3 separate regions of the Homo sapiens genome follow, and regions 2 and 3 are each linked to region 1. Evidence: fine-mapped expression QTL. A gene starts in region 1. Each other region holds a variant in brackets. All regions are shown on one strand. Distances are between the middles of the regions. Region 1 holds the start of RSPRY1 (ring finger and SPRY domain containing 1). Region 2 overlaps PSME3IP1 (proteasome activator subunit 3 interacting protein 1). Region 3 overlaps RSPRY1 (ring finger and SPRY domain containing 1).

Evidence for each region. PIP is the estimated chance that this variant, and not a neighbour inherited with it, causes the effect.
Region 2: its variant is fine-mapped to the expression of RSPRY1 in whole blood (INTERVAL, PIP 0.92).
Region 3: its variant is fine-mapped to the expression of RSPRY1 in whole blood (INTERVAL, PIP above 0.99).

What each region holds. Positions count from the first base shown.
Region 1 is chr16:57,183,092-57,191,428 of GRCh38, reverse strand. It overlaps RSPRY1 (ring finger and SPRY domain containing 1), which reads right to left and starts at 5,100. Exons shown (of 15, transcript NM_133368.3): 1 at 4,978-5,100. It overlaps PSME3IP1 (proteasome activator subunit 3 interacting protein 1), which reads left to right and starts at 5,390. Exons shown (of 7, transcript NM_024946.4): 1 at 5,390-5,608. RefSeq lists enhancers at 3,760-4,404, 5,716-5,765 and a silencer at 4,806-5,015.
Region 2 is chr16:57,155,299-57,163,298 of GRCh38, reverse strand. The region is part of intron 6 of PSME3IP1 (proteasome activator subunit 3 interacting protein 1); the gene reads left to right. Among named protein-coding and RNA genes, the nearest start is that of PSME3IP1, 27 kb to the left of the region's middle. The variant C/TC (reference allele first, on the strand shown) is at 4,689.
Region 3 is chr16:57,235,400-57,243,614 of GRCh38, reverse strand. It overlaps RSPRY1 (ring finger and SPRY domain containing 1), which reads right to left. Exons shown (of 15, transcript NM_133368.3): 15 at 3,146-4,736. The coding sequence ends at 4,640. Among named protein-coding and RNA genes, the nearest start is that of ARL2BP, 5.8 kb to the left of the region's middle. RefSeq lists an enhancer at 8,023-8,152. The variant AGT/T (reference allele first, on the strand shown) is at 4,564.

The sequences.
Region 1 (8,337 bases):
GACCACAGTAAACTCCAATATTGTTCTAGTTTTAGGTTATGAATACCATGTTTTAGTAATCCTTAGTAATTCACTTGGTAGGTTATTAATAAGTAGCCCTTAGGCATACCTAAGTATGAACAACTATGAAGCAATAAAAACTTAAAAAAACAAACAAACAGTGCTATATTTCCCATGTGGAGGGACTGGGCAGAAACCACATCTTGAGAATCACTGCATTAAGGGAACACAAGAGCGAAAACAATTCTTCAGGAGGTAGAGGGGTAAGAAAAAACTAACACTGAACATTAAACTATGAGGTAATATACTTGCTGAGTAAGGTATTTCAAACCTTCTATTTGAGGTACATAGGACCTATGAAATTACGCCTGGAAACTATAATTTCAAGCAACAAGAAAGCTATGTGCAGAGTTCATTCCTTAACAAATTTAAGGAGTACATAAATTCCTTACTATTTCAAATGTATTCTCAGTTTTCAAAAGCTCAGAAACAAAGCGGAATGTTCTCTAAGAGGCCACCACTATTTATAAGATAACTTTTCCTGATTTAACCTTGTATATACCACACATTTATCTAAAGTTACTACTTTTACATATTTAACCAGCAACCACTCCCTTTTGGAATGGACACATTTGTATGTTTTCTCTACTCACAAAGGTTGGCAAGAAAAGGATTTCAAAAGCTGACTTACTGAATGATAAACCAAAGGGAAATATTCACTCCTTTGCACTTCTAAAAGTTGTAAAAGTCCCCTCCAAAAGGCTGTTGCCCAAGTTACGGCATTTACTACTTCGTGATTATTCTGCTTTTCAATTTTCTAATTTGAATATCAGGGAAAAAACTACCCAAATTCAATGATAACTGCCTTGAAAATGCCAAAAGCTTGAAGAGAAGCTAAATCCATAGTTTATTATCCCCAAATAATTCTTTTGAAATAGATTGCTGGTTCCACTGTGTTTCCCATTTGTGGTGACTACTGACTTTCCACTTATTTTGCAATCCTGAGACTATCACACCCCACTTTACAAGTATCCTACTAAAAAATACAGAACATTTCCTATTTATTTATTTGAGACAGGGTGTTGCTCTGTCACCCAGGCTGGAATGCAGTGGCTCACTGCATCTTCAACCTCCCAGGCTCAAGAGATTCTACCACCTCAGCCTCCCAAGTAGCTGGGACTATCTGCATGTGCCACCACGCTGGGCTAATTTTTGTATTTTTTTGTAGAGATGGGGTTTTGCCATGTTGCCCAGGCTGGTCTTGAACTCCTGGGCTCAAGTGATCCTCCCGCCTTGGCCGCCCAAAGTGTTGTGATTATAGGTGTGAGCCACCATGCCCAGCCATAACTTCCAATCTTAAGTAGTGTAATAGTGATTACTACCTTCAAGAATTCCTAACATTTTCTCCAAACTATATAGAGTGTGAAAGAAAGCTGTATTTAAAAAGATGCAAAGGGATTTCCCACTTCATTAGAACAAATTACTTCATTGTTAAGGAAAGCATATACAATTCTCAACAGACTAAATTAAGCTCACGAGGCCAGGCATGGTGGCTCACACCTGTAATCCTAGCACCTTGGGAGGCCAAGGTGGGTGGATGGCTTGTGCCCAGGAGTTTGAGACCAGCCTGGGCAACATGGCGTAACCCTGTCTTAAAAAAAGTGCAAAAATTGGCCAGGTGTGGTGGCTCGCACCTGTAGTCCCAGTTACTTGGGAGGCTGATGTGGGAGGATCACCTGAGCCTGGGAGGTAGAGGCTTCTGTGAGCCGTGATTGCACCACTGCACTCTAGCCTGAGAGACAGCATGAGACCCTGTCTCAAAAAAAAAAAAAAAAGAAAAGAAAAGAAAAAGAAAAAACAGAAAAAAAGAAATACAGAATAATTGTTTGTTAAACTCTTGACAAAACACACTTTTTTTTTTTTTAGCCTCCAGGCCCCACAGTGCTACATAACTCAGATTTGTTGTTTTTACCTGATTCACTACAGATTAACACACTATTATACAAAATGCTAAGTTTTTATTTCCCTTTGATACTTACTAAATGAAAAGTTATTTTGCTGACAAAAGCAGAAGCCCACATAGAGTATGCTGGTATACCTCCTATAATCAATAACTTGAAAATAATCACTGAGGGCCAGGCACAGTAGCTCATGCCTGTAATCCCAGCACTTTGGGAGGCCAAGGTGGGCAGATCACTTTGAGCTCAGGAGTTCAAGACCAGCCTGACCAACACGGTGAAACTCCCTCTCTACTAAAAATACAAAAATTAGCCAGGCACGGGTGGTGCTTGCCTGTAATCCCAGTTACTTGGGAGGCTGAGGCAGAAGAATTGCTTGAACCCGGGAGGCAGAGGTTGCAGTGAGCTGAGATCGCGCCATTGCACTCCAGCCTGAGGAACAAGAGGGAATCTCGGTCTCAAAAAAAAAAAAAAAAAAAAGTCACTGAGTACAGAAAAAAGCATAACATAGAAAGACATTAAATAGTAGGTTAGGGCAACATGCATCCTGGGAGATCAAATAACTCACAATCACCAGTTATAGTTTTTAAAAAGATCCACAGAATATAGGATCACAAAAACAGAAAATTCAGAGCAGTACAAAAATTACTTCGAAAGGCAGACACAGTGGCTCACGCCTGTAATCCCGGCACTTTGGGAGGCCGAGGCAGGCGGATTACAGGACGTCGGGAGTTCGACACCAGCCTGACCAACACGGAGAAACCTCGTCTCTACTAAAAATACAAAATTAGCTGGGCGTGGTGGTACATGCCTGTAATCCCAGCTACTCCGGAGGCTGAGGCAGGAGAATCGCTTGAACCCAGGAGGCGGAGGTTGCAGTGAGCCGAGATAGCGCCACTGCACTCCAGCCTGGGCAACAAGAACGAAACTCCGTCTCAAAAAACAAACAAACAAAAAAACCAAAAACACAACTAAATTACTTCGGAAAAAATCCCATATAAATTGCCCGATATTTGGAAAACCATCTCTAACAAGTACGACGAACCAAACACTAGTAAAATGTCATACAGGGACACAAGTCTCTTACAATCTCATAGAGGGATCTACAAAGCAAGATACCATCCCAGGAAATGATTGCCCGATATTTGGAAAACCATCTCTAACAAGTACGACGAACCAAACACTAGTAAAATGTCATACAGGGACACAAGTCTCTTACAATCTCATAGAGGGATCTACAAAGCAAGATACCATCCCAGGAAATGCAAAGTCCACATAAGGGGAAAAATAAAGAGAACCACTGTGCAAGAGAAATTTAAAAGCAACTTCCAACATGCCTCATAATCTATAGTCTAGGGCTACCACAACAACGCATAGTATTCGTGGAGGAAAAAAGGCAGTCTTTACAAATCACAACTGAGGGAGAAAGTATGATATTCACTGCCTGTAGACATCCAAAAGCCATGCATATATATATGCAAAAGGGGGAGGAGGTTTACAATGTTGAGATCAAATTACTTAGAGGAAAATTTCAGCTGTTAGGGGAAAATAATTCCTGAAGGAAAAGATATTACAGTGGTAACTCCTGCCAGCACCATAAGAAGTTCAAAGTAAATGAAAACTCTGAGAGCAAAAGCTGGAAATCCCACCATCCCCATCTAAGCAGGGTTTGAAACCATGGGTTTAGATCTTAATATGACCTAAGAAGCTGTGAACCTTGAAGCTTTCAGTACAATATGGCTCCCAGCACTCCGCAGGTGACAGACAACGACTGTATTAATCCCACCCCTTACCTCTACATACTACTTTACATTTTAGAAAGTGCCTTCACTTTTATTCCTCAACAGCAACCCGTTTGGTGGTAGAATCACACTAACTTACGTTCACGCAGCTTGTAATTTGTACTTTCACATACTGCGCTGGTTATTTTACAGTAGAGACTTAAGGAGGTTAAGTCACTCCACTAAGCAAGAACAGATGGTAGGTAAAGGGCCTGGAAAACTGCGGGATTCTACTCAGTCGATAACAGACACTTCTAACCCTTCAAAGTTCAAAGTACAACACTCCAGGGGGAGCAACCTCTCTCAGAGAACTATACAAGACAGGACCTCGGAGTCTCAGCCGACCGCCTCGGTCTCAGTCGGTTTCCCTCCCCAAAGACGGGGAAAGTGAGGCAGCAGGAGAGACAAATGCCTAATTTGGACTCACGCAAGGGGTGTTGGTGGGATAGACTCTCCCCACCCCACTCGGGCAATAAGCCCGGAAGCAGTTGGATCCTGTGTCTGGGACACCTGGTCGATCTACAGAGAGAGGGAATAATTCCCGTTTCCCTTTCACTACTCCCCACTCTGGCTTTCCTGTGGATGGAGGTGTCTTCTTCCCATCACCGCCCAGAAATCCCCTCTCCCCAAGGTCCTTACCCAATTTTCAGCTCCGGCTTCCGTAGTAGGACATTCCGCTAGTTCTAGCTCCTGCTTCCTAGCCCCATTCTCTCTCTATCCCAAGGCGTTTCTAAATCTCCCCGGGGAGGTATGCCTCATCCGTGCCACCTAGACCGTAAACTCCACAAAAAGAACCCTCCTAAAGCGTCCCTTCATCTACCCTTTCTATCCCGGGCACCCCTGAGTAGGTCAGGACCCCATCGGTACCAGGAGCCACCCCAGGAGATAGATAGCTGCCTCTCACCTGGGCCCTGTTAGCCGCAGCCTCCTCAGAAGGGCGACCCCCAAGAACCTCTTCTGGTGAGGACCCCCGAAAGAGGGAACACCCTCTTCTAGGAACCTCTTCAGATCCCTCAAGCGCGGGCCTCGGTGGAAAACCTCTCGGCTGTTTCTCAGGTTCTGACCAACGCCACCTCTCTCCCGGGCCCTTTCCAGAGCCTACCCCGGCCCCAGTCCGGTCCGCCCGCCCCAGGCTCGAGCGGCTGTTCCCCTCCCTCACAGACGTCCCCAACCCTCAGACTCCCTCCCGTTCCGCGTGCCCAGGGCTCAGAGCAGCGCGGTCGGGCTGTGGCACTGACTTTCTCTACCTCCCGGGCCCACCGGAGGGAGGGGGCGGCGGCGGCGGCGCGACTCCTTTGTGACAGGTCCGAGAGAACGGCAAAGATGGACGCGAGGCCACGGCGCTGCCATTACGCGCAGAGCCCACCCCCGCTTCGTACCGCCCCAGCCCTCCCTCAGTCCCCTAGGAAACGCCCCTTCCTCGGTGGCAAGCCCTCTCCTTGACAGCCAATCACCTTTCAAAAATCGTGTCACGTGATCAGCGGGACCGGCCCGCCCTCCAGGCGCAGACTGGCCAGTCCTCATCCTGAGGCGTGAATGGCCCAATCAAGTCTCTCCGGCTCGTTTTCAGGGTACCGGATTTCCATCGGGCTCCCGGGGAGGAAGAGCTCCGCGGATTGGGTTACGTCGCCGGAAGTGGGGCGGGACTCTATTGTGGCGGTGAGGAACAGGAAGCCCTGAAGGGTCAAAAGAAATACAAAAGCAAAGGCTATTTTCTTTTTTTTTTTCTTTCTTTCATTCATTCCTTCCTCTGTTTCTTTCTTTCTTCCTTTCATTTTTTTTTCTTTTTTAAGAGCGAGCGGCTCTGCGGTGGCGGTTTGGGGTGGGCGCCGCCGAGGTGAGGTCGTCTCGCCTCCCGCGCGCCGGTAGGTGAGTGCGGCCTCGGTCCTGGCCTGGCGGCGACACCTGGGTTCCAGCTTCCTTACGGAAGAGATGAGCTGCGGCTGCTGTTAGGGTTAGGGCCAGGCCTGTTCTCAGTCCGCGCACCCGCTCCTTGTCCGGAGTAGCCGAAGCCTGGGGCTTGCGGGCCCAGCCTGAGGGGAGCTGAGGGTGCCCGCGGGAAGGCATCTGGGTCGCGGCGAGGACCCTTTCAGGCGGGCCCAACACTGCCGGGCGTTTAATGGGGTTTCCCCAATTTTCTGCTAGGTAGGGCCACCCAGGTTTCAAGTGAGTAGCAGGCTCCGTTCCAGAGGTCTTGGAACAGGTCCAGGTTACTCACTCGGATGTGCGGCGTCTGGTTGGAAATGGTTGAATCCCAGAATGGCAGTGCAGGATGGGAAGCACATTTATTGTGTGCCATGTACCAGTTGCTGTGCCAAGCGAATTTTCTATTACGGAAAACAAGCCAGCTGGCCCGTTTTGCAGAAAACTTAAGAAACAAAGAGAGTTGAAGCGTCATGCTTGAGAGTTGGTGGTCCTTGTGACTGTCAGTCCACACAGAGGAAAGGGGGAGACCTGTTTGTTCGTAGTCGTGGTTCTTTAATGTTAGTGGAAAACAAGATCTCCTGGGGCCCTTTTAAAATGCAGTTTCTCAGACTCCCGCACGCTCGGGTAGCCCGACTGGTTAGTTCAGGAGTGGGACCCAAGAAGCCAGATGCGAGCCTGGTGATCGGAATTCCCGATGACCTCTTGCCTACCACCTGTGACATAAGATTTGTCGATTCATCAGTTATTTGGTGTATTCATGTGTCCACAGGGACACCATAAAATGGAAGGCACCCTTCTGAAATATTTGAAGGGAATCAGTGGGTAGACTCCTTTTTGATACAAAGTATTGAGCCGACAGCAGCTTTTACAGTCTTTTAGTTAGATGACCTGCGAACAATTTGTAAGGATCTGAAAGTAGAGGCTGCCCGATTATCTTTCTCAACTGAAGTCTTCATGTCCTTACCCTGTGGGGAAGTGCTTCATGATATAAGAAAGGAATAATTGTGTCAAAACCATTTAGTTGATTATCAGTCTTCACTTTCATCTTCCAAGAATGGTGATGCTTGGTTAGAATCAAGCTGCTGCTTTAGCTATTGAAAACCACGTATGTGGTAAATCAAGTAACAAGTGCGATGTACGTACAGGGTCAGTCATAGTGTAATTATGCCTTTATGGCAGCTAAATTAAGCATTTTCAACGTGTTCACCATTAGTCACCTTTTGAACATACTTTGTCTTCATTCTTAAATATTATGTTTCACTCTTTACTATAGAATATGTTGTTAAGATTGTTTTGTCTAAAATCAAGTATCGACAAGTTTAAAAAAAAGATTGTTTTGTGTTTGGTTTTCTGTATTTCCACTATGCTCTATGGAACTATGGGTTTGTTTTTGTTCAATTTGTTTGGTATTTATTAGACTTCTTGAATCTGTGGATTAGTGTCTTTCATTAATTCTGTAAAATTCTCAGCCATTTTATATGCATATATTGCTTCTTCCCATTGTTTCTCTTTTTTTTTTTATCGATTTAACTAAACCTTTTCACTCTTTTCTCTATGTCTTTTACTCTGTTCTTTCGTAGTACATTCTGGATAATTTATTCTCAAGTTATTTCCATTGTTATTAAACTCGGCCTCTGAAATCTTAAATCATATATTGCAATTTTTAGTTTCTGAAGTTCTGTTTGGTTTGTGACACTTTTACAGTTTTTTATTTCTTACTATTTTGAGGCTTAATTTTATTTCTTTAAACATGGAAAGTATAGTTGTTTTTATAATCTCTATGTTTAATTCCACTGTCTGAATTCCCTTTGGGGGAGTCTGTTTCTGTTGTCCATTATTCCTGCTGTTTTACTTCCCAGTTCACCTTTACTTTGAAGCTGTAGTTCTTTTGGGCACAAGATTAAGATGGAGAGGGAGGTAGTTGTCAGACTCCACTCCCTGGATGGGCTCCTGGCTTGAACTTGTTTCTGTTATCTCATAAAGGCACTGAAACTTTAGCTTTTAGGTCAGAGAAGTCCTCAGGATGAAATCCATTTTGAATATTGGGCTTAATTTCTGGTTTTCACCTTCTAGATTGTGTCCAAATTCTTTACTATCTTGTTAGCTTTTCTATTTAAGAATTAATATTTTTGGCTGGGCGTGGTAGCTTACACTTGTAATCCCAGCACTTTGGTAGGTCGAGGTGGGCAGATCACTTGAGGTCAGGAGTTTGAGACCAGCCTGGCCAACATGGTGAAACCCTGTCTCTACTAAAAATACAAAAATTAGCCAGTCATGGTGGCGGGCACCTGCAATCCCAGCTATTCGGGAGGCAGAGGTAGGAGAATCGCTTGAACCTGGGAGGTGGAGGTTGCAATGAGCTGAGATCATGCCACTGCACTCTAGTCTGTGTGACAGAGCGAGACCCTATCTCAAAAAAAAAATTATTTTTGACAAATTTCCAGCATATTTAGTGCAGAGGTGGAGAATTGGTTTCAATTACCTAGCCCACTATTTCAAGAAATGAAAATCCCCCTGTATTCTGAAATTTGGAATGTGAAATTTGTGTGATTTCCAAGTTAAAGATGGTTATTCTTCATATACCTAAAATTTCCACCACTTTTCACTGTGCATCGTCACAGCCATTATGAAAATTAAGCTTCCCCAATGCTTATTCTAGTCTTCCTTTCTGA
Region 2 (8,000 bases), 28 kb after region 1:
CCTTTTGGTCTAGAACCTACTTTTAAAAAGAAGAGTCTGGGGGAAAAAAAAAGGAGCCTGCCTTTTACCCGTATCTCTTCCATCTAGTTCTCCTTAGAGGGAAACAGAATTATACTTTTTTTTTTCTTTTTTTTGAGATGGAGTCTCACTCTGTCACCCAGGCTGGAGTGCAGTGGCTCAATCTCAGCTCACTGCAACCTCCGCCTCCTGGGCTCAAGTAATTCTCCTGCCTCACCCTCCCGAGTATTTGGGATTACAGGCGTGCGCCACCACACCTGGCTAATTTTTGTATTTTTAGTAGAGACAGGATTTCACCATGTTGGCCAGGCTGGTCTTGCACTCCTGACCTCAAGTGATCTGCCTGCCTCGGCCTCCCAAAGTGCTGGGATTACAGGAGTGAGCCACCAAGCCCAGCCACATTTCTTATGTAGCCATCAAGAGCTATTCTATGCATGTGCAAGCAATTGTAAATATGTATCTTTTAAATGCTTTATTATGGATAATTTAAGCAATATTCAGAAGTTGGAATAAGTATAATAAACCCCCATTACCAAGCTTCACTGATTTTTTTTTTTTCTTTGTAAGGTATCTCCTACAGGAAAGACCGTCAACAATTTTTTTTTTTTTTTTTTTTGAGACAGGGTCTTGCTCTATCACCCAAGATAGAGTGTAGTGGGGTTATCTTGGCTCATTGCAGCCTCTGCCTTCCTGGTTTAAGCAATTTTCATGCCTCAACCACCCAGGTAGCTAGGACTACAGGCATGTGCCACCACGCCCAGCTAATTTTTGTATTTTTAGTAGAGACGGGATTTCGCCATGTTGGCCAGGCTGGTCTCGAACTCCTAGCCTCAAGTGATCCACCTGCCTCGGCCTCCCAAAGTGCTGGGATTACAGGTGTGAGCCACCACACCCAGTCAGCAGTTTTTAACACATAGCCAATTTTATTTCATTTATATCTCTCAACTGTAATATTTTGTGACAATTCCAGACATTATATCATTTCATTCATAATTCTTAATATATGTCTCTAGCAAATACAAGTTCTTATTTTGTTTCTTTGTTTTAACAATTACAGTACCATTATATTAATAATCACAGGCCAGGCGCAGTGGCTCATGCCTATAATCCCAACACTTTGGGAGGCTGAGGCAGGCAGATCACCTGAGGTTGGGAGTTTGTGACCAGCCTGACCAACATGGAGAAACCCTGTCTCTACTAAAAATACAAAATTAGTCGGGCTGCTGGCTATGCCTGTAATCCCAGCTCCTCAGGAGGCTGAGGCGGAAGAATCGTTTGAACCTGGGAGGCAGAGGTTGCGGTGAGCCGAGATTGCACCATTGCTCTCCAGCCTGGGCAACAAGAGCGAGACTCTGTCTCAAAAATAATAATAATAATAATCACAGTAATTACCAAATATTATCGAATATTAAGTTAGTATTTTCTCCAATTGTCTCAAAAAAGTTTTTTCTTTTTAAAAATTATGATCTTGGCCGGGCGCGGTGACTCCCACCTGTAATCCCAGCACTTTGGGAGCCGAGGCGGGTGAATCACGAGGTCAGGAGATCAAGACCATCCTGGCTAACACGGTGAAACCCCGTCTCTACTAAAAATACAAAAAATTAGCTGGGTGTGCTGGCGGATGCCTGTAGTCCCAGCTACTCGGGAGGCTGAGGCAGGAGAATGGCATTGAACCCAGGAGGTGGAGCTTGCAGTGAGCAGAGATCACGCCACTGCACTCCAGCCTGGGTGACAGAGGGAGACTCCGTCTCAAAAAAAAAAAAAAAAAAAATTATGATCTTAGCAAGGACCAGACATTATATTTGGCTACTATGGCTTTTTTTTAAAAAAGTATTGAGGTATAATTCACATACCATAAAATTCACCCTTTAAAAGGATACGACTCAGTGGTTTATATTTTTTAAAAATCAGTTGACCATAAATGTGTGGGTTTATTTCTGGACTCTCTTCTTCCACTGAGCTATATATGTCTATCTGTATGCCATTAGCACACAGTCTTGATCACTATAGCTTTGGAGTAAGTTTTAAAATTGGGAAGTGTGAGTCTTCCAACTTGGCTCCTCTTTTTCAAGATTGTTTTGGCTATTTGGAGTCTCGAATTTCCATATGAATTTTGGGATCAGCTTGTCAGTTTTTGCAGAAAAGGCAGTTACGATTTTGATACAGGAATTGTTGGAATCTGTAGATTAATTTGGCAATGTTGCCATCTTAGCAGTAGGCTAATATACCTTTTAATTTGAATTTAATCTGTAAGTTCTTCCTTTCTAAATTTATATTTTGTTTTCTTTGTATTTTATTTGTGGAGAAACTGGGTCTTTGTTCTTTAGCATTTCTCTGGCTCTAGATTTTACTGATTGCATCCCCATGCTGTTTCCTGCTACCTTGTGTTTCCTGTAAAATGGTAGTTTGATCTGGAAGGTTGATCAAGTTGGTTTTTTCGGCAAGAATACATTATATACTGTTTTCATACTTTCATTGTTAGTAGTATTTTAATCTAACCTACTCTGTTCATTGCTTAATTCAGCAGTTATTGTACCTTGGGAATCATTGCATAACTGGACATAGAGCACTTCCTCGTTCCTTTTTAAGGCTGTGTAGTATTGTATATTGCATGGGTATATCATTTATCCTACTTTTTAATTGATGAACACTTAGATTGTTTCATTCTTTCCCTGTTCTGATGTTTCAGTAATAATCCTGCACATGCATAATTTTTCACATGCACAGATCTATCAGGTTAAATACTTTGAAGTAGACTTGATAGGTCAGAGAGGATATACATTTGTAATTTAGGTAAATATTGCCAAATTGCCCTTCAAATAAGTTATCCCAATTTATACTCCCATCAGCAATTTTGGAATTTTTCACTGACATCTTTTTAATAAATAGGAAATTTGCTTAAATAGGATAAATGTATACTGTATATGTGTATACACACACACACATAAAGCTTCATAGGAATATTTTTCTTTTTTTTTTTTTTTGAGACGGAGTCTCGCTCTGTCGCCCAGGCCGGACTGCGGACTGCAGTGGCGCAATCTCGGCTCACTGCAAGCTCCGCTTCCCGGGTTCACGCCATTCTCCTGCCTCAGCCTCCCGAGTAGCTGGGACTACAGGCGCCCGCCACCGCGCCCGGCTAATTTTTTGTATTTTTAGTAGAGACGGGGTTTCACCTTGTTAGCCAGGATGGTCTCGATCTCCTGACCTCATGATCCACCCGCCTCGGCCTCCCAAAGGGAATATTTTTCTTTTAATTAATTTTTTTTTAGAGATAGGATCTCACTTTGTTGCTTAGGCTGTAGTGCAGTGACTATTCACAGGTGCAGTCATGGCACACTACAACCACAAACTCCCAGGCTCAGGTAATCCCCCACGTGAGCCTCCTGAGTAGCTGGGGTTAAATGCTCTTGGCATAGGAATCTTAAATGTATTTCTACAAGTAAGCTAGTCGCTCTTTATATGGTACTTATTTCCTGGTAGGAACTATACAAATGAATCAGTGGAAAGGAAAACTTGTGTGGATTCTTTGAACTATCTCAGGCAGACAGCTGTGTTTCAGAGCCATCTTTTTGTCATTCTAAATCCCTTCTTCCTACTCCTGCATTCTTGCAACAGAAACCAGGCAGGAAGTGTCCTCCTTTGCTAGGAATTAAGGCTCCACAAGAAGAACGCTCCCTGAAGCTTGCTTCAGCCCTGTCCTTAGCAGTGGGAGGATTTCCGTCTTGGGCCCCTATGACTCTGATAGAAATTCAGGCTTCCCCCAGCGAAGATTTTGAACTTAAGCACTGAGCAGAGCCAGTGAATGCACAAGTTGGCCCCATCTACTCCCAAGTCACGCATCTGTCTGAATACTAAGAACATTCTCTATTAGTAATTTTCTGTGTTAATTTGGTATGACAATGTGGTCCTGCAAATGCAGAAGTTGGCAGGAAACTTCACCAAATGGGTGAGATCAGAGGGCACCATTTTGTTCTCTTTGGACAGTTAACTGCTTTTGGAATGAAATTTGTCAGATTTGCAATCTCTTTTCTTTCTTGAAACCTCCTAGATAATTGGGGTATTTGGTCTCTTCACTTAAACTCTTCTGATACCACAGTGGTCCAGATTCCTTGATTATATTTCTGTAGCTAACTTCCATTCTTCCGTTAGGCCAGTTCTCTACCCCCACAGGCACTCTGACTTTCATCCTTCTTTTCTATGTAAAATAGAACTTTAAATTCCATTCGCCCTTGAAATATGGTCATGTGCCACATAACGCCATTTTGGTCAATGATGGGTGCATATATGATGGTGGTCCCATAAGATCATAATATCGTATTTTTACTATGCCTTTTTCTATGCTTAGCTATGTTTAGATACACAAATACTGACCATTGTATTACAGCTGCCTACAGTATTCATACAGTAACATGCTGTACAGGTTTGTAGCCTAGGAGCAATAGGCTATATACCATGTGGCCTACATGTGTAGTAGGCTATACCATCTAGGTTGTATAAGTATTCTATGATGTTCACAACAATGGAATTGTCTAATGATGCATTTCTTAGGTCATATTCCCATCATTAAGCAGGGGTGTCTGTACTTGATAAAATGAAATACCTCATTCAACAATTTCACATAAATTAGTTTTCTAGGTAACTGATCTATATATCCTTTTAAGGTTTTTTTT[C/TC]TTTGTTGGTTTGTTTTTTTATTTTGAGACAGTCTAGCTCTGTCACCCAGGCTGGAGTGGGGTGGTGCGATCCCGGCTCACAGCAACCTTCACCTCCCAGGCTCAAGCGATTCTTCTGCCTCAGCCACCCAAGTAGCTGGGATTACAGGGGTGTGCCACCACGCCTGGCTAATTTTTGTATTTTTAGTAGAGACAAGGTTTCCCTGTGTTGGCCAGGCTGGTCTCGAACCCCTGACTTCAGGTGGTCCACCCGCCCCAGTCTCCCAAAGTGTTGGGATTACAGGCGTGAGCCACCACGCCTGGCTGGTTTGTTTTTTTTAAACAACCAAATTTTTCTAACAGAATGCTGAAAATATCATTCTATCTGGTATACATAAGTACTACAATGTATTTTTAAGTCATGAATGGTATAGTTTGATGTTATGTTCCAAATGTTAAAAGAGCATCACATTTTTATACCCCTTCCCCCCAAATTAGCCATTTGCAATGAAACTGTAAACTGTCTGACACATTTTCCTGCATTCTGATTTCTGACCCTTGTGAATGCAAGCCTGCTCTGAGCCAGGCCCTGTGCTATATGTCCTGGGGGTGGAATGGTGATAAAAGAATGCTTGCCTTCAAGGGGCTTACCGTTAGTGGAGAATACACACAAGCAACCCCTCTCATCTTCTACAGCCTTCTTAGCTTTAATACTGGGATGCTCTTGGGGTTACAGAGATAAATGGGACTATTCCTCCCTAGTTTAAGGGCTCAGGATGTTCTTTGAATTTTTGTATTTGCTTTTTTAAAAAATTGTCTACCCAAGCACAGCTGCATTTTAAAAAACTGTCTGAATTGGTAATATATGCACATAATAAAACATTTAGGCCAGGCTAGGTGGCTCATGCCTGTAATCCCAGCCCTCTGGGAGGCTGAGGCGGGAACATCACTTGAGCCCAGGAGTTTAACCTGGGCAGCATAGTGAGCCTTATGTTCTTAAAAAAAAAAAAGAAAAAAAAGAAAAGGAAAAATTCAAAAGGGACAAAAGAATGTGGAGTAAAAAGTAAGTCTCCCCCATTTTCCAGCCACTCATTTCCTTTCCCCTGAGCAGCCTCTGCTACCAGTTTTTATTTATTGTTCTCAGACACTGACATGCATCTACATGGGCATGGCCACTTTGCCCCAGATTGTAACTTTCACACACTGTCCTGCTCCTTGCCTTTTTCATTTAGCACAATATCTTGGGGATCATTCAATAACAGTACACACAGAGATGCTTTCTTCTTCTTCTTCTTCTTCTTTTTTTTTTTTTTTTTTTGGAGATAGGTTCTCGCTCTGTCACCCAGTTTGGAGTTCTGTGGTGCGATCATGGCTCACTGCAGCCTCAGCTTCGCCAGTTCAAGTGGTCCTCCTACCTACCTCAGCCTCCTGAGTAGCTGGGACTACAAGTGTGCACCACCACACCCGGCTAATTTTTTAAATTTTTTGTAGAGACAGAGTCTCCCTGTGTTGTTCAGGCTGTTCTCAAACTCCTGGGCTCAAATGATCCTCCTGCCTTGGCCTCCCAAAGTGCTGGGATTACAGGCATGAGCCATTATGCTCAGCTACTTTATTCTTCTTCATGGTTGAATAGTAGTCCATTACTTAACTAGTCATCTATTAATGGACATTTTGGTTGTCAGTACTCTTTTGCTACTATAAACAGTGCTGCAATGAATGTTCTCTTATGAACATCATTTAAGTTCGAAGAACTTTGCCAAATTTCTCTGTACTCCCTGAACAGCAAATGAAGTTTGCTGTTCCTAACATGTTCCCTCCTAATATATTGTTTATCCCGTTATGTTTAAAATTCATCTGTTTCTTTTTCTTTGAGTTGTTCATGTTTTCCATTCACTTTTCTATTTGGTTGTTGGTTGTTTTTTTAACAGATTTGGAAGAACTCTTAGTATCTTAAGGAAATTTGCTTTTATGATAGTACAAGTATTTGCTCCTGCCTTTTTTTTGTAGCCTTGCTCTATCTCTGTAGCCACTGTCGGCTTTCATTTGACTTTTCTCCATCTCCGTGTTTTAACATTGCTTATCTTTGGCAACTTCCTTTTCCCTTCTTAGAGCTTCTTGCACAAACAAGCAAATACATTGATCTCCTGAACTTTGTGTGCGGGCCGTTTGATATCTCTTCTAACTGCTCAGTGGTATTGTTTGCTTACTCCTGGTTTCCTATACTTGGAACTGTGTATTCTTTTCACATTTACTTGAGGTGTCTGGGTAAATGAGGTGTTAGTGCATCTAAGGCAAAACCCTAGAAGGTAGTATGCTTGTCAGCCTGTGGCAACAAAGTATGAACTCCAACCCTTACTCTGCAGTGAGCTCAGGTTATCATTTTCGTATGTTCTCTTTTGATTCACGTTTAGTTTCACATTTTCTGCCCTAAGCAACCTACAACCTTGCCAAGTCATTTGACTTTCCTCATCAGTAAAATGGGGATAATGCCTATACATCAAGTTGTAGTGATTAAATAAGGCCGGAAACATTTCAGGGAAGAATGGAAGGGCTGGAGTAGAGTTCTTAACTTTTCCTTTCATCTTCAAGTCCTGCATTTTCTTTTCTTCCTCCTCCTTCTTTCTTTCTTTGTTTTGTTTGTTTGTTTGTGTGTTTGTTTTTTGAGACAGGGTCTTGCTCTGTTGCCCAGGCTGGAGTACAGTGGTGCCATCATAGCTCACTGTAACCTTGAACTCCTGGGCTCAAGCAATCCTCACATTAGCCTCACAAGTAGCTGGGACCACAGGCATGCACCACTATACCCGACTAGTTTTTTTGTTTTTTTTTGAGGCAGTGTCTTGCTCTGTTGCCCAGGCTGGAGTGCAGTAGCGCGATCTCAACTCACTGCAACCACTGCCTCCTCCTGGATTCAAGCTATTCTCCTCCCTCAGTCTCCCTAGTAACTGGGATTACAGGCACGCGTCACCACACCCAGCTAATTTTTTGTACTTTTAGTAGAGATGGGATTTCACTGTGTTGGCCAGTGAACTCCTGACCTCAAGTGATCCACCCACCTTGGGTGGTCTTGACCTCCTGACCTCAAGTGATCCACCCAACTTGGCCTCCCAAAGTGTGGGATTACAGGCATGAGCCACCTCACTTGGCACTGTCTAATTTTTCAAAACATTTTCTCGTAGAGATAGGGCCTCACTATGTTTCCCAGGCTGGTCTTAAACTCCTGACCTCAAGTGGTCCTCCTATCTCAGCCTCCCAAAGTGCCAGGATTATACGCATAAGCCACCATGCCCAGCCAAGCCCTGCATTGTCTAGATTGAGGTCTTTGTCATTGAGGTG
Region 3 (8,215 bases), 52 kb before region 1:
AGTCTTGCTCTGTTGCCCAGGCTGGAGTGCAGTGGCGCAATCTCGGCTCACTGCAATCTCTGCCTCCCGGGTTTAAGGGATTCTCCTGCCTCAGCCTCCTAAGTAGCTGGGATTACAGGCGCGTGCCACCACACCCGGCTAATTTTTGTATTTTTAGTAGAGACAGGGCTTCACCATGTTGGCCAGCGTGGTCTCGAACTCCTGACCTCTGGTGGTCTGCCCGCCTCGGCCTCCCAAAGTGTTGGGATTACAGGCGTGAGCCACCGCACCCGGTCAGGTGACATCAATTATGAGTTACTCTGTTTAGCACCAAGTGGAAGATAGGCATTTAAAAAGATTTGCTGAATTACTGGACTGAGTTGTTTAGTCAAGCCCTGGTCACACAGCTTACAGCAAACTCAGAGAGTTTCTTCATGACCTACTTTCTCTATATACCACACATTTCTGGACAAAATGAATTTGCCTACCCTTCCTAAGTCATTGATGGAGTGGAGGAGGAACACACCTTGATTTAATCTGTTCTGGTTATCTATTGCTGTTACAAACCACCTGAAAATTTAGTGGCTTAAAACCACCATTTTGCTCACTAATCTGTAATTTGGGCAGGGCCAGCTAGTCTCTATTCCAGTTGGTGTCGGCTGGGGGCAGCTGGAATGGACTAGAGGAGCTTCCTCCAAGGAGTTTACTCACATGGCTGGCAAATTAGTGTTGGCTCTTGGCTCTCAGTTGTGGACATTGGCCAGAGAACTGGGGCCGGGGTTTGGGGGGTTTCAGTTCCTCTCCATCTATAGGATTCAGGGGATTCTTGGGTTTTCTCACACCATGGTGCTGGGTCCAAGAGCAAGTGTTTCAAGACACTGAAATGTAAGCTGGCAGTCACTTAAAGACCTGGTACTGGAAACTGGCACAATAGCCCTTCCACTGTGTTCCACTGATCAAGCAGACCCAGAGCCACCCAAATTTAAGGAAAGTAGACATAAACCTCATTTCTTGACGGGAGGGATGTCAAATAATTTGTGGCCATCTTTTAATCCATTTCACCAACCTTACTGACTCTAGGAACAAATGGGGATAAAGATAAAAAGTACCCACTCAAGGATGTATCAGATAGTGTGCTAAACATTTATAAATACATTGTCTCCTTTTGAAATATTTGAGACCTTACAAAAACAAAAAACCGGTATGAGGTGGGTAGTATCTCCATTTTACAGACTGGGAAACCAAGCATTAGTGGGACCTGGGTCCAGTCCCACTCCAAAGGGCCTATTTCAACCATCATGCTATATAGCCCCTAATCCCTGGGTTGTTAAACCATATTCTTGGAAATCAGAACGTTTTCTCCTGAATACAGAATGGCCTTTTTCCACTTGTAGCAAAACTAAAAATTGACTTGAATACACTAAATGTTTTTCCATTAATACTCATTTTTAAAATCCTTTGATTGGGGGTTGGCACTAGGAATTCTTCTGAGTGAATAAATAGCAAAAGGTAAATGATGGGCAATATTGGAAAGAGCTGATCTTAGGTGGATGGTTTGTTTTCATGGATACACATTCAAGATGGTTGAAACTTGTGCAAAAGTCATTTTCTGCCAGTGAAATTGTGTCAGTTTTGTGACTGAATCAGTTTCCTGGCACTCTGCAAATGGCACCATGACTTTCTTCTGCTCTATGTTATTTTAAAAAGGGGCAAATTCATTAAAAAACTTTTTTGGCTGAAATGCTGGATTTCCCCAGTGAATCACCTGACAAAATACCATAATTTTTTGTTTTTCTCCCTGGTAACAATTTATCAGTAGTAAAAGTCTAGCTTTTAATTTCTCTTAAATGCTTACATTCAGTTCAGAATATGGATGTACGACTTTACGCTTCCACATAGCTTGCTAACCCCTAGTTTTTTCTTTGATAGGGAGTTCCTGTCTTTCCCTTTGAGGTGGCTCCAAGTTTACAATTTAGCTTCCATCCTGGATGATTTGATCAATTTAATATTGAAGCCCTTTTGTTTTATGATCTAGAACTTAAGAACAGGAAACGTAAACCACCCTAGGAACAAAGTTCAAGGGTAGATTTTTAGAAAGCTGTTACACTCCTGCATTCCTTTGCCTGGCAAATTATTAATTCCATCTATTTTTCCTTCTCTCCACTAAATGTACAGACTACCTTTAGTTTCAGCTGGACCACACATTTCTTTACTGGTCTATTTCCATTTTTTTGCTTGTCCTTTACCCCCAGCCCACCCCACTCCTCCATTCCATTCTCCAAATAGAAGCCAGAGCCATCTGTTAGAATTATCAAGGCACTTCCATGCTTAAACACCTTTGCCTTCTACTGCACTTAGTATAAAACAGAAAATCCTTCACATAGCCTTCATGAGCAGTTCCCTGGCCTCTCCAACACTGTAGCATTACCTATTCTACCTACTTGCTTCCTATTTTTCCAGTTACAGGGGCCTTCCATCGGATCCCCAAACCCACTGAGACCCATTCTTCCTCAGTTAGTGCCTTTGCCTAAAATGTTGTGTTCGCCTAGCTACCCAGTCCTAGAAGCTAGTCCTCAGTCTCTGCCAGGCTATGTCCTACTTCCTCCTTTAAGTTTCACTAATGTTACTTCCCCAGTGAGGTTTCTTCTGACACTCCCACCACCATCTAAATTAGGTCCCCCTCATTCTCTCTAGGACCCTATTCTTTTCCACTAAAAATCTGTTACAATAAACACAAATATATTGTCTTCTCCCCACCTTAGGAACAAACTTCAAGGGTAGATTTTTAGAAAGCTGTTAGGCTCCTGCATTCCTTTGCCTCGCAAATTATCTATTAATTCCATCTATTTTTCCCTCTCTCTACTAAATGTACAGACTACCTTTAGTCTCAGCTGGACCACTTCCAAATTACTGTTAGACATAATAATAGACAATAATTAGACAAGCTTATTAGACATAAGCTCTACAAGCATATTTTGTATGCCACATAGGCACAGTGCCCAGCACATATTAGGTGCTCAATAACAATCTGCTGGATGAGTAAGTGGCCTTATTCTTAATTCTAATACTTGATTCTCTCCTACTCCCAAAAGTAGCCCTTAAAGTCTGAGAGTATAATGTCTTGGAACCTTAGCAGTATACACCAATGAAAGTTGTGAAATCTTAGTCAAAAAAGGCAACAGATGTTTTATTCTTCAATGCAAATTACTGTATTCACCACAAGCTAAAGAAGAGAACATGTATCCTACATATATATTTATATATATATATATTTTTTGTGTGTGTGTGTGTGTGTGGATTTATGGAAGACTAAAGACACGGAAAAAAATCCAGCACCCCAACATGTACAGCCAGGAAGGAAATCAGTTCTGTAATAGGACAGGTATAATGAACTACAAACAAGAAGGGGTGGAAAAAGAAGAAAAAAAAATGTGCATTGAGTTTAAGACACTGTAAAACTCAGAAGACATATTTACTATTCAAGTATAAACTCTGTAAGGACTTGGCATAAATTGAAAGGCAGCTGCTGAGGTACACCATTATAAAAGAAGTTCTATGAATTTACAATTCTACCTTCCAATTTCCTGGGAGAAAAAACCAAACTCTTGAAGGTCTTCACCAGAGACCCTGAGAGGGATTAACACTTTTGATGAAGACATAGTCAATAATTCATGATTGAACTATTCAAAAACATGTATTTATTTAGAACAATAGAAATACGTGTTCTCAGACTGTCCTCTAGAGTTTTTGAGACTATTAGTTCAAGAGTTTCAAAGTATATTACTTGTAAAAACAATACTGATTAAAAAAATTTTTTTTAACAAAAAAACAGAAATCTGATTTGATGGTACCTTGAAAATACCCTAAATACCAAATTTTCTCCAACCTAACATTACAGCTAATTTAAGAATTCCTCCTTCATTGGTAAAACATTTTTTCCTCATTAAATGTGGGTACTGAAATTGGATAGAAACACTATGAATGTGAAAATACCACCAATTTTCTGCAGTAAAAAAAAAAAACCCAAAAAACAAAAAAACAAACAAAAAACCTAGAATGTTCTTTGGAATCACTGAAATATCACAAACTTGGGTTTTTTCTTACAGTCTGTGCACCTTCTTTCAGGTTCTCTGTTTTGCTTGTAGTACTGACTGTGTGATTCTAATTTTTATAGATTCAAGTCTTGCAATGCAATATCCATGCTTGACACACCGGTGTCTCTGACCAGTGAGAAGTTATGCATAACCCAGAAACGCTGTCATTTACATCTCCATAAAGACTTCTGCCCCAAATAAAAACTTCAGAATGACACAACACATCCTGTGTTAAACAATCAAATGAACCCAACAAGGGGGATTCCAGTGTGATTTCAGTACTTGGGAGGGCATTGTCTGCTATGGTTTCTCATGGAAGTACCACAGGCCTGGCTGCTAGCATTCAGCTTTCCTTGGCCTTAAAAGGGATTTTCTCAGGGCTGGCAAGTTGGATTAGATTCTAAGAGAATTTTGTCTTTGACAAACTACCATTTTTAGCATAAAATCTGGCCATGGCTATAAGTTTCAATGTGTGTACAACTGATTAGAG[AGT/T]TTTTTTTTTCTTTTTCTTTTCAACATTGGCTGGAATTGAGTAGAAAAAAGTCCACGATGCCTCTTCACATGTGTCATGAAATATGAGAAATCTGTCTGATTCTAGATACTATTTCTTTACGACACAATGGGCAGGTCTCCAGCTGCAAGGCACAATCCATGCACAGGTCACTGGGGAGAAACACAGAAAAGTCAGTCAAGTTAATGCTTCAAAAGGTCAAACTCCAACTGCCTGCCAACTAAATCAAAAATGTTAACAAGTTTGTTCATTGAAAGGGTTACTAATTATACATGGTTTAAAAAAAATGAATATGTAAATAAAAAGTAAATCTTACATTTCTGATCCTCAATTGTCTTAGTCTGTGGAACAAGTAAAAAGTTCATATGCATTCTTTCAGACACTCTATATGTGCACAGCATATACTTACAGATGTGCACTTATAGGTAGGGATATAATATTTCTCCCCAGAAAGCTAGCCATTTATCCCAGAATCATTTACCAAACAGTCCATCTTTCACCACAGTTTTGACACAATGCCTTTGTCATATGGTAAATTTTCATTTTTAGTTAGTTCTATTTCTGGGCTTTTATTGTATTCCATTATTCTGCCATTCTTGTCATATAGTAATGGGACCAAACTATTAACATTTATTTTAATGTATTTTAAGATGTGGTATGGTTGTCATCTCCCTAACTTTCAGAATTTTCTTGCCTTAAACTTTTAAATCAGCATGTCAAGTTCCAGAAAAAAATCATGTTGCTCTTTTTATGTTGAGCAAATTAAACTTAGAGTTTAGAGAAAACTGTCACCTTTACAATACTGAGAGGTCCTCCTATCCAAGAAGAGACTCATTTATTTAAGTCTTCTGTTATACTCTTTGGTAGTTTAAAAGTTTTCTTCATATACGCTCTACATATTTCTTGCTATGTATTCTTAGATAGCACTTTTTTTTTTAACCATGGTAAAAGGGATCTTCAATTATATGTTCTAACTGGCTGCTATTATACATATAGCTAGAAGAGCTACTGATTTTTGTGTATTTTGTAAGTCATAGTGGTGACAGTAGGCATCCTTATCTTATTCCCAACATCTCTTGAAATGCTTCCTATGTGTCACCATTAAAAAGATGCTAGCTGGTGAAACCCCGTCTCTACTAAAAATACAAAAATTAGCTGGGCATGGTGGCGGGCACTGGTAATCCCAGCTACTTGGGAGGCTGAGGCAGGAGAAATCACTTGAGCTCGGGAGGCGGAGGTTGCAGTGAGCTGAGATCACGCCACTGCACTCAAGCCTGGGTGACAGAGCGAGACTCCGTCTCAAAAAATAAATAAATAAATAAAAATAAATAAATAAATAAAAATAAAAAAATAAAGAGATACTAGCATTTGGCTGAAATATATGTGTTTTTTGTATTGTTATGGAAGTATCCATCCATTCCTATTTTATATTGTTTTAGTCCATTCATTTCTGTTTTGTAGTATTTCATCCATTAGGAATGGATATTGAATTTTAACAAATGCTTTCTCAGCATTCTTGAAGTGATAACTGCCCCTCTCCTGCCTCTGGCCTATTTGAGTAATTATATTAAAGATTTCTATATTGTAGGCTGGGCATGGTGACTCATGCCTGTAATCCCAGAACTTTTCGGAGGCCAAGGCAGGTGGATTACTTTAGGTCAGGAGTTCGAGCCAGCCTGGCCAACATGGTGAAACCCCGTCTCTACTAAAAATACAAAAATTAGCTGGGCCTGGTGGCATGCGCCTGTAATCCAAGCTACTCGGGAGGCTGAGGCAGGAGAATTGCATGAACCCAGGAGGCAGAGGCTGCAGTGAGCTGAGATCACACCACTGTACTCCAGCCTGGACGACAGAGCAAGACTCCATCTCAAAAAAACCTGCCTTTGCCTGGGCTGGAGTGCAGTGGCACGATCTCTGCTCACTGCAACCTCCACCTCCCAGGTTTAAGCAATTCTTTGTCTCAGCCTCCTGAGTAGCTGGGATTACAGGCGCCCACCACCACGCCCGGGTAATTTTTTTTGTATTTGTAGTAGAGACGGGGTTTCACTGTCTTGGCCAGGCTGGTCTCAAACTCCTGGCCTTGTGATCCACCCGCCTTGGCCTCCCAAAGTGCTGGGATTACAGGTGTGAGCCACCGTGCCCAGCCTAAGATTTCTGTAATTGTACCATCCTTGCATTCCTAAGATAACTCCCCCTGCCAGTTGCGTTGCTAGGTCTTACTTTCTAATATTTTATTTGGGAGTTTTAGATTTATATTCATAAAAAAATAGTTTTTTCTTTTTATGAGTTTTATCAGCTTTTGGTATGATTACTAAAAATAACATTGTGGTTTTCCTACTTTCTCTATGGTTTGGCCAAGTTTAAATAGAATTGGGCTACCTATTCCCTGAAAGTTGTAAAGAGTTCACCTGTGAAACTAGCCTTAGTACTTGTGGAAGAGAAGGCAAAGGTAGCTTTGATAACCATTTTAACTTCTTTTATGGTAACAGGAATGCTTAGATTTTCAGTCTCCTCTGGGGATTGACTCTTGTAATTCATTTTATCCAGGTTTCCTTTCTTTGTCCCTATATCCCTTTTAAAATTGTTGTTGCTGCTCAAAGTTTAGCTAAATTTTCTTATAATTCTTTTAATGTCCTCTTCCAACTCTATTTTGGATATATATCTACTATGGAGACTATGATCATACTTAAGATACCTAGTTCTAAAGTTTTATATTTCAGCACTCATTAATGACCCCTTGTATTATGTGCAAGACCACAGGACCAGAGAGCTCAAAGATGATTAAGACCAGATCCAGCTGTTTGAGATCTTAACATTCTTACAGAAACAAAGATCAAAAAGGGCATGAAGATATCCAACCTTTAAACTCTGCATCTGTCTGTGAGGCCCTGATAACTAAACCCTCCAAATATGCTCAAACTGAGAAATTCTGGGCTGTAGAAGTAATAGGGAGGATTAATCACAGCTGGAATCACTGTGCCTTTCTTTCAGAAGAGAGGCTGGTATAGCTAAGGGTGAAATGAGACACACTCTACTTCCCTTAAGTGCACAGCCAATTAGATAACCCGTTTCAAAAGACAACAAACGTAGAGAGGCAGAGTCAGGGGCCCAGGCTGAGTCATTCCTGGGGATGACAAACTGGGTTCATCACTCCAGGCTCTGGACCCCTGTGGAGCCACGTGACTAAAGCTATGTCAAAAATAAGACCAAGGCAGGGTATGGGATATGATGAATTACAGGTAGCTGGCTTGTAACATCAACTTGAGTGTTGCTCATAAACAATCGGCACACATTGACTGGCCAGGACGCCACATTGCCCAACTGCTCTTCTCCTTTCTAAACTTAGTTGGGCTAGCCTTCCTGGGGACCATCTTACTTGCTTCTCTTGCTGATGCTCACTCTGTTCTATAGGGTCCAGGCTGCCCTCTGAGTTCATCTCATACAACTGAAATTTAGTAAGATGACATGGAGGCTGCTAACTTCTCAATGGTTGACTGTAAATAAGAAGTAAATGAGGAAGCTCTAAAACTAAAAGAGTGCCTAGGAAGCTCATAAATAGCATTAAACCTGTTACATTTTGTGAAGCCAAAATTGTATCAAAAATACAGTACTGAGTAAACAAAACAGCCTT